Homo sapiens: one gene and its partners. The protein of the gene in region 1 purifies or fractionates together with the protein of each later gene. This does not show direct contact. Each region holds a gene or a part of one and is shown in the gene's direction. Other genes may lie near its edges.

Region 1 (4,047 bases):
CCCAGCGAACATTTTAATTTTTTAAAATTGTATTTATTTATTTATTTATTTACTTTTAGAGACAAGTTCTTGCTGTGTTACCCGGGCTGGAGTGTGGTGGCATAATCTTGACTTACTGCAGCCTCGATCTTCTGGGCTCAAACATTCCTCCCACCTCAGACTCCTGAGTAGCTAGGACTGTAGGTGTACACCACCACACCCAGCGAATTTTGTTTACTTTTTGTAGAAATGAGGTCTCACTATGTTGCCCAGGCTGGTCTTGAACTCCTGGCCTTGAGTGATCCTCCCATCTGGGCCTCGCAAAGTGTTGGGATTACAGGCGTGAGTCACCGCACCTGTCCAATCTCATTTATATTTTACGGCAGTTCTCTAAAACAGATACTAGTTTCCTTACCTTTAGAATGAGTATAAGGAGGCTCTGAGACATTAACTAACTTGCCCAGATTCTCTTAGATGGTAAGTGGCTGAGCTGGGATTTGAACCAAGGTGTGTCTAGGTTCAACATCCAAGTCTTAGTCACTACGTGGTTCAGCCATGCCTTGCAGTTTTAAGGCTACTCAGTTCTTGTTTTAGCATAACGGAAAGACAGACATTGGGATTCAGAAGTCTGGCTTTCCAGTTCCAGCCCTGCCACTTCTTGACTGTGTGACACTGGGCAAGTCATTAAACTCTCTGAGCCTCCATTTATCAGCAAAATAGAGTTAGTAAACATAAAGCTGTTGGAGGGTGAACAGATACCATGTGCCACCTGCAGAGCAAGGCACAGCACCTGGCCTGGCATGTAGAGGGCCCTCAGCAATTGTTGTTGTTATTGTTACTGTAGGTTTTATGCACCTGCTGGGTGTAACCTTAGGGGAGTACAATTGTTGTTGTTATTGTTACTGTAGGTTTTATGCACCTGCTGGGTGTAACCTTAGGGGAGTACAATTGTTGTTGTTATTGTTACTGTAGGTTTTATGCACCTGCTGGGTGTAACCTTAGGGAAGTACAATTGTTGTTGTTGTTGTTACTGTAGGTTTTATGCACCTGCTGGGTGTAACCTTAGGCGAGTCACTTAACCCTCAGACCCTCCTTGTTCCACTGGGGGCTGTTGTGTGAAATGAGAGTACTCATTGACTCCGCGGCCTGCCCGGAAATGCTGACGTTTATCATCCATTTTGCCTCCCCTGCTTCTCCTCCAGACATGGCGGTCGCTCTGCCACCTTCTTAACCTACCTGGGGCGTTTATTATTATTATTATTATTGGGACAGGAATCTTCCTCTGTCGCCCAGGCTGGAGAGCAGTGGCGCCATCTCGCTCACTGCAACCTCCGCCTCCCAGGTTCAAGCGATTCTCCTGCCTCAGCCTCCCCAGTAGCTGGCATTACAGGCACGCGCCACCACGCTCGGCTAATTTTTGTATTTTTAGTGGAGACGGGGTTTCACCATGTTGGTCAGGCTGGTCTCGAACTCTTGACCTCGTGATCGGCCCACCTTGGCCTCCCAAAGTGCTGGGATTATAGACGTGAGCCACCCCGCCCGGCCCTTACTATTATTTCTATATTTCATTGATTCTGAGAAGCCATTGATATGAAGGCACATCTTTATTTACCCACTAATAATATATTTGTTGATTAGTTGGTGACACGCCACCAACTGTAGATGCACCCGCACCTCAGGGATGTGAGATGATGGGTACACGTGCGTTTCCGAACGGATGAGAGTCCCGGAGCTCCCGGGCGGCGCAGACAATGGGGAACCGCCCAGCTTGGGCCGCGTTTACCAGCAGGAGGCCGCACGGGGGCGGGCGTCTGGCGGGGCCGGGGCGGCGGGTCCACGGGCTTTCGGGGGCTCAGGCCGGGCAGGGCGCAGCGCCGCCTCTCTGCTCTTCCCTCCGCCCGCAGACCTCGCTCAGGAGCGGGAGGGCCGCTCTGCGAGAGCTCCGAAGCCGTGAGAACTTCCTCAGCAAGCTCAACCGGGAGCTGATCGAGACCATCCAGGAGATGGAGAACAGCACGACCCTGCACGTGCGGGCCCTGCTGCAGCAGCAGGACACCCTGGCGGTGAGACCCGCGGCATCCGCCCGCCCTCCGTCCCTCCGTCCCAACCTCCGTCCCTCCCTCCCTCCCTCCGTCCCTCCGTCCCGCCCTCCGTCCCTCCCTCCCTCCCTCCCTCCGTCCCGCCCTCCCGCCCTCCGTCCCGCCCTCCCTCCGTCCCTCCGTCCCGCCCTCCCGCCGTCCCGCCCTCCGTCCCTCCCTCCCTCCCTCCGTCCCGCCCTCCCTCCCTCCGTCCCGCCCTCCCTCCGCGCACTCGCGCGCCCTCTCCTGCCTTTCCCCGCCCACTGCACGTGGTGCTTCCTCCACCTGGAAGACGCATTTCTTCACCCTTCACTCCCCTCACCTGGGCTTTGCAAGAGGACCGAGATGGGTTTCATCCCAGCGCGCCAGCACTCACTGGCCGGGAGACTTTTAGTTAACTTTGCCTCCCCGAGCTCTGTGAAATGCGGCACCATAGCACCCGTCCCAGAGGGGGTTCACCGGGCACATACTGTACCGGTGCGACAGAGGTCGCTGCTACCACCAACAGCATTTGCAAACACCTCTACGTGTAATAGCAAGCGATCTGTATGTCTTTATATAGTCCTTACAACAACCCTATGGGTGGACACTGTTACTGTCCCGATTAGCCTCTGGTCAGGTTTCTGGGAGTGAGGTTGGGACTGGGGACTCCTCTGAGGAAGTGCTGGGTGGCCGCCTCTGAGAGCCAGCAGAGCCTGTGGGTGAGTTGACTCCACCCCTCCCGCAGACCATCATCGACATCTTGGAGTACTCAAACAAGAAGAGGCTGCAGCAATTGAAATCTGAGCTTCAGGAGTGGGAAGAAAAGAAGAAATGCAAGATGAGCTGTAAGAATCCCTGGCAAATTCCTTGACCCTCCCCCCTGGCACCTTGGGGAGGTCAGCAGCAGAGCATTCACCTTGTACTTGCCATTCAGAAACCCTCAGCCCCATTGGCTCTCTTCTTGGCAGATGGGAATGCTAAGATACAGAGCGAATAGCATAGTTACCCAACACTTAGCTCTTTCCAGGCCCCGTATCTGGGTCTCTACCAATGTCTGCATTGTTACAGGCACACACTCAGTCATTGCAACTACTTGGAGGCAGGGAAGCTGTCCTCCCATTTTACAGATGAGGAAACCGAGGCTAAGAGAGGTGCAGTAGCTTGTGGAAGGTTATATAGCTAGGAGCCAGAATCCAATCCTAGCCTGGCTCTGTTTCCTGCCAAGGTCCTTCTGGGAGTCAGTGGCTGGGCTAGAACCTGGGTCTCCTGGCTTCCATCCTGCCTGGCCTGTGGTTCCTTTTCCCTGAGCAGACTACACACCTGCTGAGCAGAGGGGTGGTGGATCAGTCAACCCCAGACATTGGGGGTCTCTCTGGAGGAAGACAGGATAGACTTTGTCTTAATCCTGCCATGGGTTGTGTCTTGGGAGCCACTGTCACCCCATCTGCCTGGTCTCACTTCCTTGAGTGTGTCTCTGAGGAGACTGAAGTCTGGAGAGGGACAGTCTTGGCGAGAGCCACCCGGCAAGTCAGTGGCAGAGTGGGGACTAGTCTAGGGATCATGCACCAATTCCCTTCCTTTTTCCTACCCAGCATTGCCTCTTCTCCTGCAGGGGTGGAAAACCGTCTAGAGCCTTAACTTTTAACCACCTCCCAGCCCTGTGTGAGCTCACCTCAGCCCAGACCCCAGTTACTGGCCAAGGAGACCTTGCCTCCTGGGCCTCCTGGGGCCCAGGTGCTTGAGGGAAGGTCTTGCCTCCTGTCCCTGCTGACCTCCCTAACCCCTCCCCAGATCTTGAGCAGCAGGCAGAGCAGCTGAATGCCAAGATTGAGAAGACCCAGGAGGAAGTGAACTTCCTGAGCACTTACATGGACCATGAGTATTCCATCAAGTCTGTCCAGATCTCCACTCTTATGCGCCAGCTGCAGCAGGTTAAGGACAGCCAGCAGGTAGGGGAGCCCCTGCCCCTCTCCCACCAGACTGTGTGGGAGGCAGGACTGGTGACCAA
Region 2 (3,332 bases), on another chromosome or scaffold:
GTATAATTGTTATTCGTCAATTTAAAAATAAGTAAGAAAGGCTGGGTGCAGTGGCTCACTTGTGTAATCCCAGCACTTTGGGAGGCCGAAGCAGGAGGATTGCCTGAGCCTAGGAGTTTAAGACTAGCCTGGGCAACATGGTAAGACCATGTCTCTATAAAAGTAAGTAAATAAGAATATCCAAAACAATAAATTTATAGTAAATGTGGTATTAAATGATACCATAGTGATTCAAGATATAGTTGAAGAACTATTAATTCTTAAGTATAATAAAGGTATAAAGGTATTGATCTTACATTTATAAAATAAGACCTTATTTCTTAGAGATACATACTGAAGTATTACAGAAGAAATTACATATCTGAGATGGGAGGGCAGCGTATGGATGAAATAAGACTAGAGATGAATTGATAATGGCTGAAGCTAGGTGATGAGTACATGAGAGTTCATTATAGCATTTCTCTACTTTTGTTTACATTTGTCCCTTGGTATCCATGAGGAATTGGTTTCAGGACCTCTCACAGATACTAAAATCCTCAAATGCTCAAGTCCCTTATATAAAATGGCATAGTATTTGCATATAACCTACACACATCCTCCTGTGTACTTTGAATCATCTAGATTATTTATAATACCTAATACAATGTAAATGCTATATAAATAGTTGTTTCTGTATCTTTTAGGGAATAATGCCAAGAAGAAAAAAAGTCTGTACATGTTCAGAACACAGTTTTTTGTTGTTGTTGTTGTTTTGTTTTGTTTCGTTTTGTTTTCATATATTTTCAATCTGTGGTTGTTTGCCAGGGATACAGAACCTGCAGTTGTGGAAGGCTGACTGGATTTGAAATTTTTCACTCTCACACACAAAACTGATAGAGCCAACAAAAGAACGTCTGTATTACATAAATGTAATGCTTCTACAGAGAGTCTTTAGACTTAAAAATGAGACCCCTCAAAAAAAGGAACTCCTAATATTAGGGCTCATCTTCACAGAGTTTGCTGCTGTTTGAAAATCCATTATTAAGTGAGATAATCCATTATCAATACTCTTCTGGAGCAAACTTGAGAAGTGTCAGAAAGAGAAATGGCCAAGTAGCCCTTTAGTGTTGTTCTCAATGTTTTGTTCTCTTTTTAATTCAACAGCGTATTCTCAGCTATGACACAGTGGTGCAAACAACTGGAGACTCGTGGCACATACCATATGATGAAGACTTGGTAGAAAGATGTTCCTGTGAAGTACCAACCAAATGGCTTTGCCTCCACCAAAAGACATAGAGATTCTTACCTCTATGCTAAGTTTGTGTTTGGGTACCCTCTAGGTTGGCATCAGAGGCTCTTGAGCTGGTGTTTGTTTAGGGCATTGCCTCTGTCCTGAAGATAAAAGGATTCTATTAACAGCATTGACATTGATTTTTTAATGAAATGAGATATATCTTTTCATAACCAGCTGCGTTTTTTTCCCCTAACATTTGTTTTTGGAGGCTTATCAAGAGTTGGAGAACTTAGTGTAGAGCAAAACCTGCATTTCTCCTACTGGGCCAGCTATTCCACTTAGCTTGGGTGACTAATAGTGCTTTTGGTATCCATTTTTTGCTACTTCTGACCTTGCCTTCCAGGCCTACCAATAGCAGAATCAATCCATCTGTCCCTGAGATACTCATGTTGTTTCAAATGCCTCCTCCCATTTCTGGCATAGTCTCATTCTCTGTATGTTATGCCCTATCCACATGGAATCATTTATCGTCCTCTGTAATAAACTGGCCAAGATACTAAAGGCTTACTATTCATAGCAGTTTTTAATTACTTATCATCCAATTATTTGGATTGGAGAAGAGGGGGCATTCACTCCTCTTTTTCTTATTTTTTTTGGAAATAGAGTCTCAACTTACTCTGTCGCCAGGGCTGGAGTGCAGTGACGTGATCACAGTTCACTGCAGCCTCAAACTCCCAGGCTCAAGCAATCTTCCTACCTCAGCCCTCCTGAGTAATTGGGACTACAGGCATGTATCACCAGGCTTGGCTAATTTTTTTTTTTTTTTTTGTAGAGATGGCTGTCTCACTCTGTTGACAAGACTAGTCTCCAACCCCTGGCCTCAGTCGATCCCCAGCAATTTGGGAGATTGAAGCGAGAGAATCACTTGAGTCTAGGAGTTCAAGACCAGCCTAGGCAACATAGTAAGATCTCATTTCTACAAAAAATTTAAAAATTAGCCAGGCATGGTAGTTTGCACACATAGTCCCAGCTACTTTGGGGGCTGAGGTAGGAGGATTGCTTGAGCCTCAGAGGTCAAGGCTGCAATGAGCCAACGTTGCACCACTGCACTCTAGCCTGGGTGACAGAGCGAGACCTTGTCTCAAAACAAAACAAAGTGCTGGAATTGCAGACTTGAGCCACAGTGCCCAGCCTCACTTCTCTAGACTATGATGGTTTTTTCTTCATTCTATAATCTCTTTTCCAAATTGGTTCAACATTTTGTGAACACTATTAATTTCATCATTCAGTATATGTGGGCTTTCTAAAATATGCCAATTTTTTTCCACTTAATCAAGTTTGACTTAATTTAACAAAGTGATTATATTTTAATAGTTACATTTCTGTTTTTTCCACTCACTAGCCAGCTTACAGTTTATTAGCCCTTGATTTCAGCTGAAAATATTCATGTCTGCACCCCTTCATGATAGTTCTTTCTTTACGTATACATACTGTATTCAATATGCAAGAACAGGCAAAAACTACTCTATTGTGATAAAAATCAGAATAGTAATTGCCTGAGGAAAGGGATATGAGAGAACTTGAGAGAACTTTCTCGGGGTGATGGAAAGTTTCTTATATTGATTTGGGTAATAGTAACATAGCTATATGTATATATTAGTTAAAATTCCTCACACTAAACATTTTAAATTGATATATTTACATTTATGACAATATACCTCAAAGTAAGTTAGGGTAAGAAAAGATAATTACTTACATGAAATAAACAATGACCTCTTTTATATCAAACCATATACATGTGTATAATTAGGGTATGTATTATGCACAGAGAAACAATTTAGGAAAATCCAAGGAGGGGACGTTTTATCTTCTTACCTATTTACTGAATGCAACATTACTGCACACCAAGACAAAAGAGCTCTCCAGGAAAACATTGGATATATTGAGAGCATTAAAAGATACTGCAAAAGCTCTAATAAATTCAGTCTGCTTATTTTCCAAATTTCATAAACTACATACTTAGGAAACTGTGCTTTCAGTGAGCTAAACTTCTTTTTTTAAGTAACTATCATAGTTTTAAGAAAAACATTTTAAGAAGACAAAAAGTATTTATTAAGCC
Region 3 (4,047 bases), on another chromosome or scaffold:
TTTAAAATAAGGTTTACCCTCTGCCCTGCAAGTCAACATACTTAGGTCTTAAAAGACTATGAAAAGAGTGATTTTTTTTAATGTCATAAATGTATCCTAATATAAGAAACAAAGTGTTTCCCATGTGTTTATTTTATGGTGTAAATTCCATGGTTAATCATCAGATAGCCTGTTATTTCTTAACAATGTTTGGTGTTGTTTTTAAAAATTTATTCTGAAGAGGCTTTAGTACAAAGTTCACAGTAAATTTTGATATATAGTTTAATCCATTTTACCATAAGAGTCTTAGAGCAGATAAATAGATAGCTTGTTTGAGAATTACATGTTTTACTAGTTGAAGAACTTTATTTTATTTAAGGGGAAGTAGCTAAAGAGGGACATGACTGTATCTGACACATTTAATATGAATATCTTGTTTTGTTTGTCTTTAGGAAACTTATAAAATGTGTAAAGAATTTTCACACAAAAACTGGCTGGTGTTCTACAAAGAAAAAGGGTGAGCTCTTTATTATAGAGGATTTAAACTGGAGTTCTTATTTGGCCCATTCTATTTCCTATTTTGATTATACTTGTTTACTATAAAGTGAATGTAACCAAATTATGAATGTTTTAATATAAAGTAACTTGCCCACATTGCAGAATATTGAGAAACAGATATAAGAAAAGCTAGTGCTCACAATTCCATGACATAGCCACTACTAACATGGCAATGGTTACTACTTTCCATTATTTTTACTTATACACACCCTGACATAGTTTAGAATTTTGCATATCTGTTTTTTTAATTAACATTTTTCTATATTATTACTTAATCTTAAAACATTCTTTTTATGGGTTGCATAATGTATCATGAAATGATTATGCCAGATTACTCAACCATTATCCTCACCATTTCCTTTCAGATACAGTTTTCTTCTTTTCCAGGAACAGCCTGACTGTGCTGGATGTTCTAGAAGGGCGAACTCACACCATCTCACTTCCCATCAACCTCAAGACAGTTTTCCTTGTAGCAGAGGACAAATGGCTTCTGGTGGAGAGCAAAACAAATCAGTGAGTGGCTTTATATAGTGTATCATGGAGTATGTTGTAGCTCAATCTTATTTATGAATTATCCAACATCTTTACTGTTCTGTCTTTCCTGTGTCTGTCCTTTAACAATTTCTGTGTTTGGCAGCATCTCTATATATGAGACTTATAAGAATTGAGGAGGGGAGAAAAAATAAATGTCACTTCTCAGAAAATGACATTGAAATTAACAGTTAAAAAATCATGACTTTTTCATATGATCCATATTTATTTGGGCTTTTTCCTATTTGTACATTGAGAATTCACTGTATTCTTGCTAAACTGGAGACACTTCAAAGTAGATTTTCCCTTCAAAGAGCCACAGTCTCTATCCTAGAGCTGTTGCCTCTTTGTAAATTCACAGAGTTCACACCTTAGAAGTGTCTTTCTCTTTTTATCTTGTGTATTCTGGTTTGGATGTGGTTATGTTTATGTTTATGTTATCTGACCCATTGGACTGTGCAGTTCTTGATGAAAGGCGGTGTCGACTTTGAGCACCTTCCCTCATGCACAACTCCACTAGCTAAGTGCAGACTCTTTCTGCCCCTCTGCTGACAAGCAGAAGTATCTCATTGCAGAGGATTTCTGCCTATATATACATCCATATTTTAGAAATGTTAAAAATAAGTAGATCAAGGAGACTACAGTTGTGAGGGCATCTATCTCCTAGCTGATCACAAATCAGAAGTCATACTCCCCCTTCCTGGCTGATCAAAGAGTTTTATCAAGAGAGGGTTACATGATAATAAGAGTGCACCCCATTAGAGTTGCTTCCCCTCCCCACAACCCTTTCTCTTATAGGAAGCATTGGATTTTTGCCTCACATTCATTACTGTATTGCTGTTGTGCACTGCTCTTTAACACAGTGTTGAGAAGTTATTTGTTAATTCATGATGAAACTCTAAAACTGCAAATTATACTGGAACTATAAAAAAGAGACTGAGGAGAATCTAATTTTTCTTAGTCTGGCCTTATTACTATTAGAAAAAGAAAAATTTCACTTAAGCTAGATGTTTTGTTTGTTTGCAGGAAATATCTTTTAACTAAGCCTGCACACATCGAATCTGAGGGTAGTGGGGTTTGCCAGTTGTATGTGCTGAAAGAGGAGCCGCCCAGCACAGGGTTTGGAGTTACACAAGGTAAATACTATGTCATCTGTGTTTATGGCTGTGTGAGTGCATGCTTGTACATATACTGTCTTCTAGAATCATTTAAGAACAAAACACCAGCCTATGTTAAGTTTACACCAAAAGAAAAAACTTAGTCACTACACCAGAAATAGTAAATAAGAATCTAGTATCTCAAATTGTCATAAGGAAGTTCACTGTTGTAAGCTCTGTCCTTGAATTTTTTTAACTGACAGATCAGTATTTTTATATACATTTAGGTTGCAAGTCTAATTTAGGATAACATCTTTTTTCTGCAGACTATTGGGATTTCTATTTAATTTATCACAGTTTTGGGGGATGAATAGTACTTACGAAAAAAATCTAAAACATACCATTGCCAACCCTTGGTTGGGTCAGTTTTTACATCTTTTCTACAGGGAGCTATTAATTATAATATTTATTCCTAATAAAATTTTGAATTCTGTAAATACTTGAAATCACTTTGGGAAGATGCCTTGATTATAAAAACAGCATTTTTTCAAACAAAAGCCCATGAATGTAATTTAAAATGTTTTCTCTTTTTTAACTTGTTCTTTTCCATTTGACTTGTTGAGAATAAAATCTTGCAAAAAATTAATTCCTGGAGCATTTCAGGAGCATATGGTGTCTAATGTTTGTACTTTTCAGAAACAGAGTTCAGCATACCTCATAAAATTTCCAGTGATCAACTATCATCTGAACATCTAAGTTCAGCTGTGGAACAAAAGATTGCCTCTCCCAACAGAATTCTCTCAGATGAGAAAAATTATGCTACAATAGTTGTTGGTTTTCCAGATCTCATGGTAAGCACCCATTTTTTAAATTATCGGATAAATGTTTCTTTCCCTTAGTTTGACCTATAATCTGTAAGCCTGTTTGAGGGGTAATTAAAAACATAATTTCCTGGTAAACATGTTGGATCAAGTCTTCCTTCCAAATCAGTCAGTAGAAAATATGTTATACCTAAATAGTTTCATTACACTTCAAAAATTAACATTGAAAGCGTAATGCAATGATAGAATTTAGTAGGGGGAAATGAGTATTCTCCATATGTGGGGGTTCATGTAATACAGTTTAAATGCTTAACCTTCTGATGGTAATTTTCTGTCATGTCTTCTATAATTTTTTAAAGTTAATTATTTTTCCATCTACACATTCTATATATTTATTTATTAACTTTTATTTTAGGTTCAAGTGTACGTGTGCAGGTTTGTTATATAGGTAAATTGCATGTCACAGGAGTTTGTTGTACAGATGGTTTGGTCATCCAGATAATAAGCATAGTACCTGATAGGTAGTTTTTTGATCCTCACCCTCCTCCCACTCTCCACCCTCAAGTAGGTGTCAGTATCTGTTGTTCCCTTCTTTGTGTCCGTATGTCCTCGATGTTTCGCTCCCACTTGTGAGAACATGTGATATTTGGTTTTTTGTTCCTGTGTAAAGTTAAATTTGTTGGATTGTCATTATTGTAGATTAAAATTTTCAACAGTCATGAAGATAGATTTATTTTCCATTGAGTTTTGCTCTGATTTATCATATCTTTGCAGCATCCAGGTTATAGTATAATGGCTAATTGTCTCAATTGATTTTCCTCTTAGATGGGCCCTTCTGTTATCTCCTATTACCTATAAAGGAGAAGCTATTTGAATTGACTGTAGGTGAAACTGGGCGACATCTTCCTCTGATGGAAATGTGGGGAAATTAATTATAAAAGTTATTTCAGTCCAAGTTGCCATCTAACAACCTTAGATGTAGCTCCATGTGTTCTGACTAAACATTTAATTTTTATAATTTCCTTTGTAGCTTTTAGATGGGATGATAGAATTATTTAAAG
Region 4 (4,047 bases), on another chromosome or scaffold:
GTAAATGTTTTCAGTGGCTCTAGGATGTTGGTTTTATGGTAATTGCTATAGTTATTATTGAACTCTTATATGCCTTGCATGATTTTTCTTTGCTTTTCTTTTTTTTTGAGATGGGGTCTCGCTCTGTTGCCAGGCTGGAGTGCAGTGGCGCGATCTCAGCTCACTGTAACCTCCACCTCCTGGGTTCAAGTGATTCCCTTGCCTCAGCCTCCCAAGTGGCTGGGACTACAGGCGCACGCCACCACCACCGGCTAATTTTTTTTTGTATTTTAGTAGAGATGGGGTTTCACCATGTTGGCCACCTCGATCTTCTGACCTCTTGATCCACTGCCTTGGCCTCCCAAAGTGCTTGGAATTACAGGCATGAGCCACCGAGCCCAATGGTGTGATTTTTCATATATCTTTTATCCTTATAACAACTAGGTAAAAAATCCCAATTTTACAGTAGAGGAAACAAAGCTCAGGGCAGTTAAGTAGTTGCTTAAAAGCACAATTGGCTGAAGTAGAATTTGAACCTTAGATAATATGATTCTGAAGGCTTTCTTTTCTTTCTTCCTTTTTTTTTTTTGAGATGGGGTCTGGCTCTGTTGGCCAGGCTGGAGTGCAGTGGCATGATCTTGGCCTACTGCAGCCTCTGCCTCCTGGGCTCAAGCCATCCTCCCATCTCAGCCTCCCAAGTAGGTGGGACCACAGGCACGTACGACCACACCTGGCTATTTTTTAATTTTAATTTTTATTTTTTGTAGAGATGGGGTTTTGCTATGTTGCCCAGGCTGGTCTCAAACTCCTGAACTCAAGCAATCCACCCACCTCAGCTTGCTTTTCTAATTACAAATTGTCTCATTTGAATCATGGTCTCATTGTGTGATGCATTCATGAAATTTGAATGTTTAAGCCCTGTGTTACTTGACATCCATTATTTTCTTTTGTAATCAGTAAATATGGAAAAGAATGTTTAGGCTTATATGAATGCTTTAGAATTGCCTGGAGGTTAATGTTTCCAACATGCTGATAAATTTCTGACAAATCATTTGGGAAAAGAAATTTCTGAGATTATTACAGAAACTAGTTTCTGGTGTAAAAAAATGTTTATAGACATTTATATATTTATACATCTACCATTTGGATTTTATTCTGTTCCTGAGAGGTTCAGAACAGAGGTAAAAACTGCTCTAGTCCTTTTCTAAGAGGAAAAGATGTGACATTTTTGATGAAGAGTGAGGGAAAAGGATTTGTTTAAATGATTCCAAACTTTAAAAAATGTAGGTGGGAGAACAAGGATGAAAAAGGAATTTGGGAAGAAACACTTTTTTGGTGGGGCTGGAAACATAGTGTTTCATTGTAGGTATCTGGAGTTAGATGCCCGCAGGAGCCATGCTGAGGTGCTGGGTATCAGTGGCTGGCTTTTGGGCCAGGGATACGAGGCTAGAGTTAGAGTTAGAACTGTGAGCCCTGACGGATATAGTGAGTCAGTTAATATTTAATTGAATAAATGCTTCGTTTTATAACCCTAAATTAGGATTTGGAAGAAGGAAGAAGAGACAAGAGGAGTTAGAGGTATGGTTTGAGAGGAGCCAATGTAGTGTAGTGTTACCAAACCTAGGAAAGAAATTTCAAGAAGTAGTTAGCATTCATTCATTCATTTGTCTAGAGATCTAGCTCTTTACTCAGAAAGTGTTTGTGGAGCATTTTCTAAGTTCCAGGTACTATGGCACGTACAGAGGAGAGAAAAAGAAATTAAAACATATTCCCTAACTATGTCCCAGGTGCAGAGAGGCTAAGGAATAAAAGATTGATGAGGCCAGGTGTGGTAGCTCACGCCTGCAATCTCAACCCTTTGGGAGGCCAAAGTGGGAGGATTTCTTGAGCTCAGGAGTTTGAGACCAGCCTAGGCAACATAATGATACCACCCCCACCCCCGGCTATCTCTACAAAATAAAATAAAATAAAATAAAAATTAGCTGGGTGTGGTGGCACGTGCCTGTGGTTCTAGGTACTTGGGAGGCTGAGGAGGGAGGATCACTTGAGCCCAGGAGGTCAAGGCTGCAGTGAGCTGTGATCACACCAATGTACTACAGCCTGGGTGACACAGCAAGACCCTGTCTCAAAAAAAAGTCTGGGCACGATGGCTCATGCCTGTAATCCCAGCACTTTGGGAGGCCGAGGCAGGCAGATCACCTGAGGTCGGGAGTTCAAGACCAGCCTGACCAACATGGAGAAATCCCGTCTCTACTAAAAATACAAAATTAGCCGGGCATGGTGGCGCATGCCTGTAATCTCAGCTACTTGGGAGGCTGAGGCAGGAGAATCACTTGAACCCAGGAGGTGGAGGTTGCAGTGAGCCGAGATTGCACCACTGCACTCCAGCCTGGGCAACAAGAGCGAAAATCTGTCTCAAAAAAAAAAAAAAAAAAAAAAGATTGGTGAAAGAATTTGAAAAGATCTTTGATCTTTAATGAGAATAATTTTAGTAGCATGGTAAAGTGTTATATACAAAAAATACTGCTTTTGACAACACTCTTGAATAGTTGAAGCAAAATTATATTTTTTGAAAGATAAGCATATTGCATAACTTTCAAAAATTAGTTTCTTTATTTTAAATGCCTATTGACATTTTCGTTAGAAAAAACCCCACAAACTGATGGGATCAACCTAATAAGATCAAAATAAAAGTGAATTTAAAGAATGTTGGAAGATACAGTTTTGTGATTTCATTCACAAAACCTAATACAGCATCCATGTGGCATACTCTCTTTGGTATTGTTTGTTTGTTTTTGAGATAGAGTCTCATGTTGTCCAGGCTGGAGTTCAGTGGTGTGATCTCCGCTCACGGCAACCTCCGCCTCCGGGGTTCAAGTGATTCTCCTGCCTCAGCCTCCTGAGTAGCTGGGATTACAGGCATGTGCCACCATGCCCAGCTAATTTTTATATTTTTAGTAGAGACGGGGTTTCACCATGTCGGCCTGGCTGGTCTTGAACTCTTGACCTCAATTGATCCGCCTGCCTCGGCCTCCCAAAGTGCTGGGATTACAGATGTGAGCCACCGTGCCTGCCCTCTCTTTGGTATTATTTATTCAAGAAACCTTTGGTTTCCTAGAGCTGCTGTACAAATGACCATGGACCTGGTGGCTTAAAACAACAAATTCATTCTCCCACAGTACTAAAGGCCTGAAGTCTGAAATCAAGGCATGAGCAGGGCCATGCTTCGCCTGAAGGCTCTAGGGGAGAATCCTTTCTTGCCTCTTTGAGCTTCTGGTGGCTGCATTCATTCCTTGGCTTGTGGCTGCATCACTCCAGTCTCTGCCTCTGTCTTCACATGGCTGCCTTCTCCTCCTCCTTCTTGTGCGTCTTTCCCTCTCATTCTTTTATAAAGACACTTTTCATTGGATTTAGGGCCATGACAAGATCTAGGATGATTTCATCTCAAGATCCTTCACTTTGTTGTATTGGCAAAGACACTTTATCACAGGTTCCAGGACGTGGACACATCATTTTAGGGGCTATCGTTCAATTCACCTACACGTAGTATGTGTCAGACACTACTTAGAGCTGGGAATATAATTGTGACTGTTTCTGCTCCCATTGTGGTTACATTTGAGTAAGGAGACTGTGCTCGTATAAATAGAAAAGTTCAGAGAGTGAGAAGTGCTCTCGAAGGAAAAAGATAGGTTAATGGGATAGAGAGTGGTAGTGGTGCTGAGTTGGGGATGTTACCTAATGAGACCATGGGGGACATTTCTGAGCATGTGGCATTTGGACAGGAAACTGAGCCAGCCAGCCATGTGACTATATGGGGGCCTAGCATTGCAGACCAAGGAGTGCCAGGGCAAAAGCTCTGAGGGGAGATTGCATTTGGCATAATTAAGGGATGAATGTGGCTGCTGTGGTTGGAGTGAACTGAATGAGGGGGTGATCTTAGGAGATGAGGGAGGAGGAGTGGGTAGGCGGGACAGAGTCATCAGGGGCTTGTATTTGGAATTTAGTAATGAGAGTCCAGTTGGAGGCATTTAAGCACATTGAATTTATGTTTGGAAAAGACGTTTGTGA

What was found.
Region 2: the proteins of C20orf96 (region 1) and PRORP purify together in Homo sapiens (affinity purification with mass spectrometry; one large-scale study listed by BioGRID and IntAct). This does not show direct contact.
Region 3: the proteins of C20orf96 (region 1) and VWA8 purify together in Homo sapiens (affinity purification with mass spectrometry; one large-scale study listed by BioGRID and IntAct). This does not show direct contact.
Region 4: the proteins of C20orf96 (region 1) and PCCA purify together in Homo sapiens (affinity purification with mass spectrometry; one large-scale study listed by BioGRID and IntAct). This does not show direct contact.

The regions. Positions count from the first base shown.
Region 1 is NC_000020.11:277,167-281,213, reverse strand, and holds part of C20orf96 (uncharacterized protein C20orf96), read left to right. Parts: intron 1-1,883; coding exon 1,884-2,042; intron 2,043-2,784; coding exon 2,785-2,884; intron 2,885-3,830; coding exon 3,831-3,988; intron 3,989-4,047.
Region 2 is NC_000014.9:35,272,292-35,275,623, forward strand, and holds part of PRORP (mitochondrial ribonuclease P catalytic subunit isoform 1 precursor), read left to right. Parts: intron 1-1,143; coding exon 1,144-1,275; 3' UTR 1,276-3,332.
Region 3 is NC_000013.11:41,688,323-41,692,369, reverse strand, and holds part of VWA8 (von Willebrand factor A domain-containing protein 8 isoform a precursor), read left to right. Parts: intron 1-431; coding exon 432-496; intron 497-924; coding exon 925-1,050; intron 1,051-2,094; coding exon 2,095-2,204; intron 2,205-2,861; coding exon 2,862-3,016; intron 3,017-4,047. UniProt on the Homo sapiens protein: Exhibits ATPase activity in vitro.
Region 4 is NC_000013.11:100,091,833-100,095,879, forward strand, and holds part of PCCA (propionyl-CoA carboxylase alpha chain, mitochondrial isoform a precursor), read left to right. Parts: intron 1-4,047. UniProt on the Homo sapiens protein: This is one of the 2 subunits of the biotin-dependent propionyl-CoA carboxylase (PCC), a mitochondrial enzyme involved in the catabolism of odd chain fatty acids, branched-chain amino acids isoleucine, threonine, methionine, and valine and other metabolites.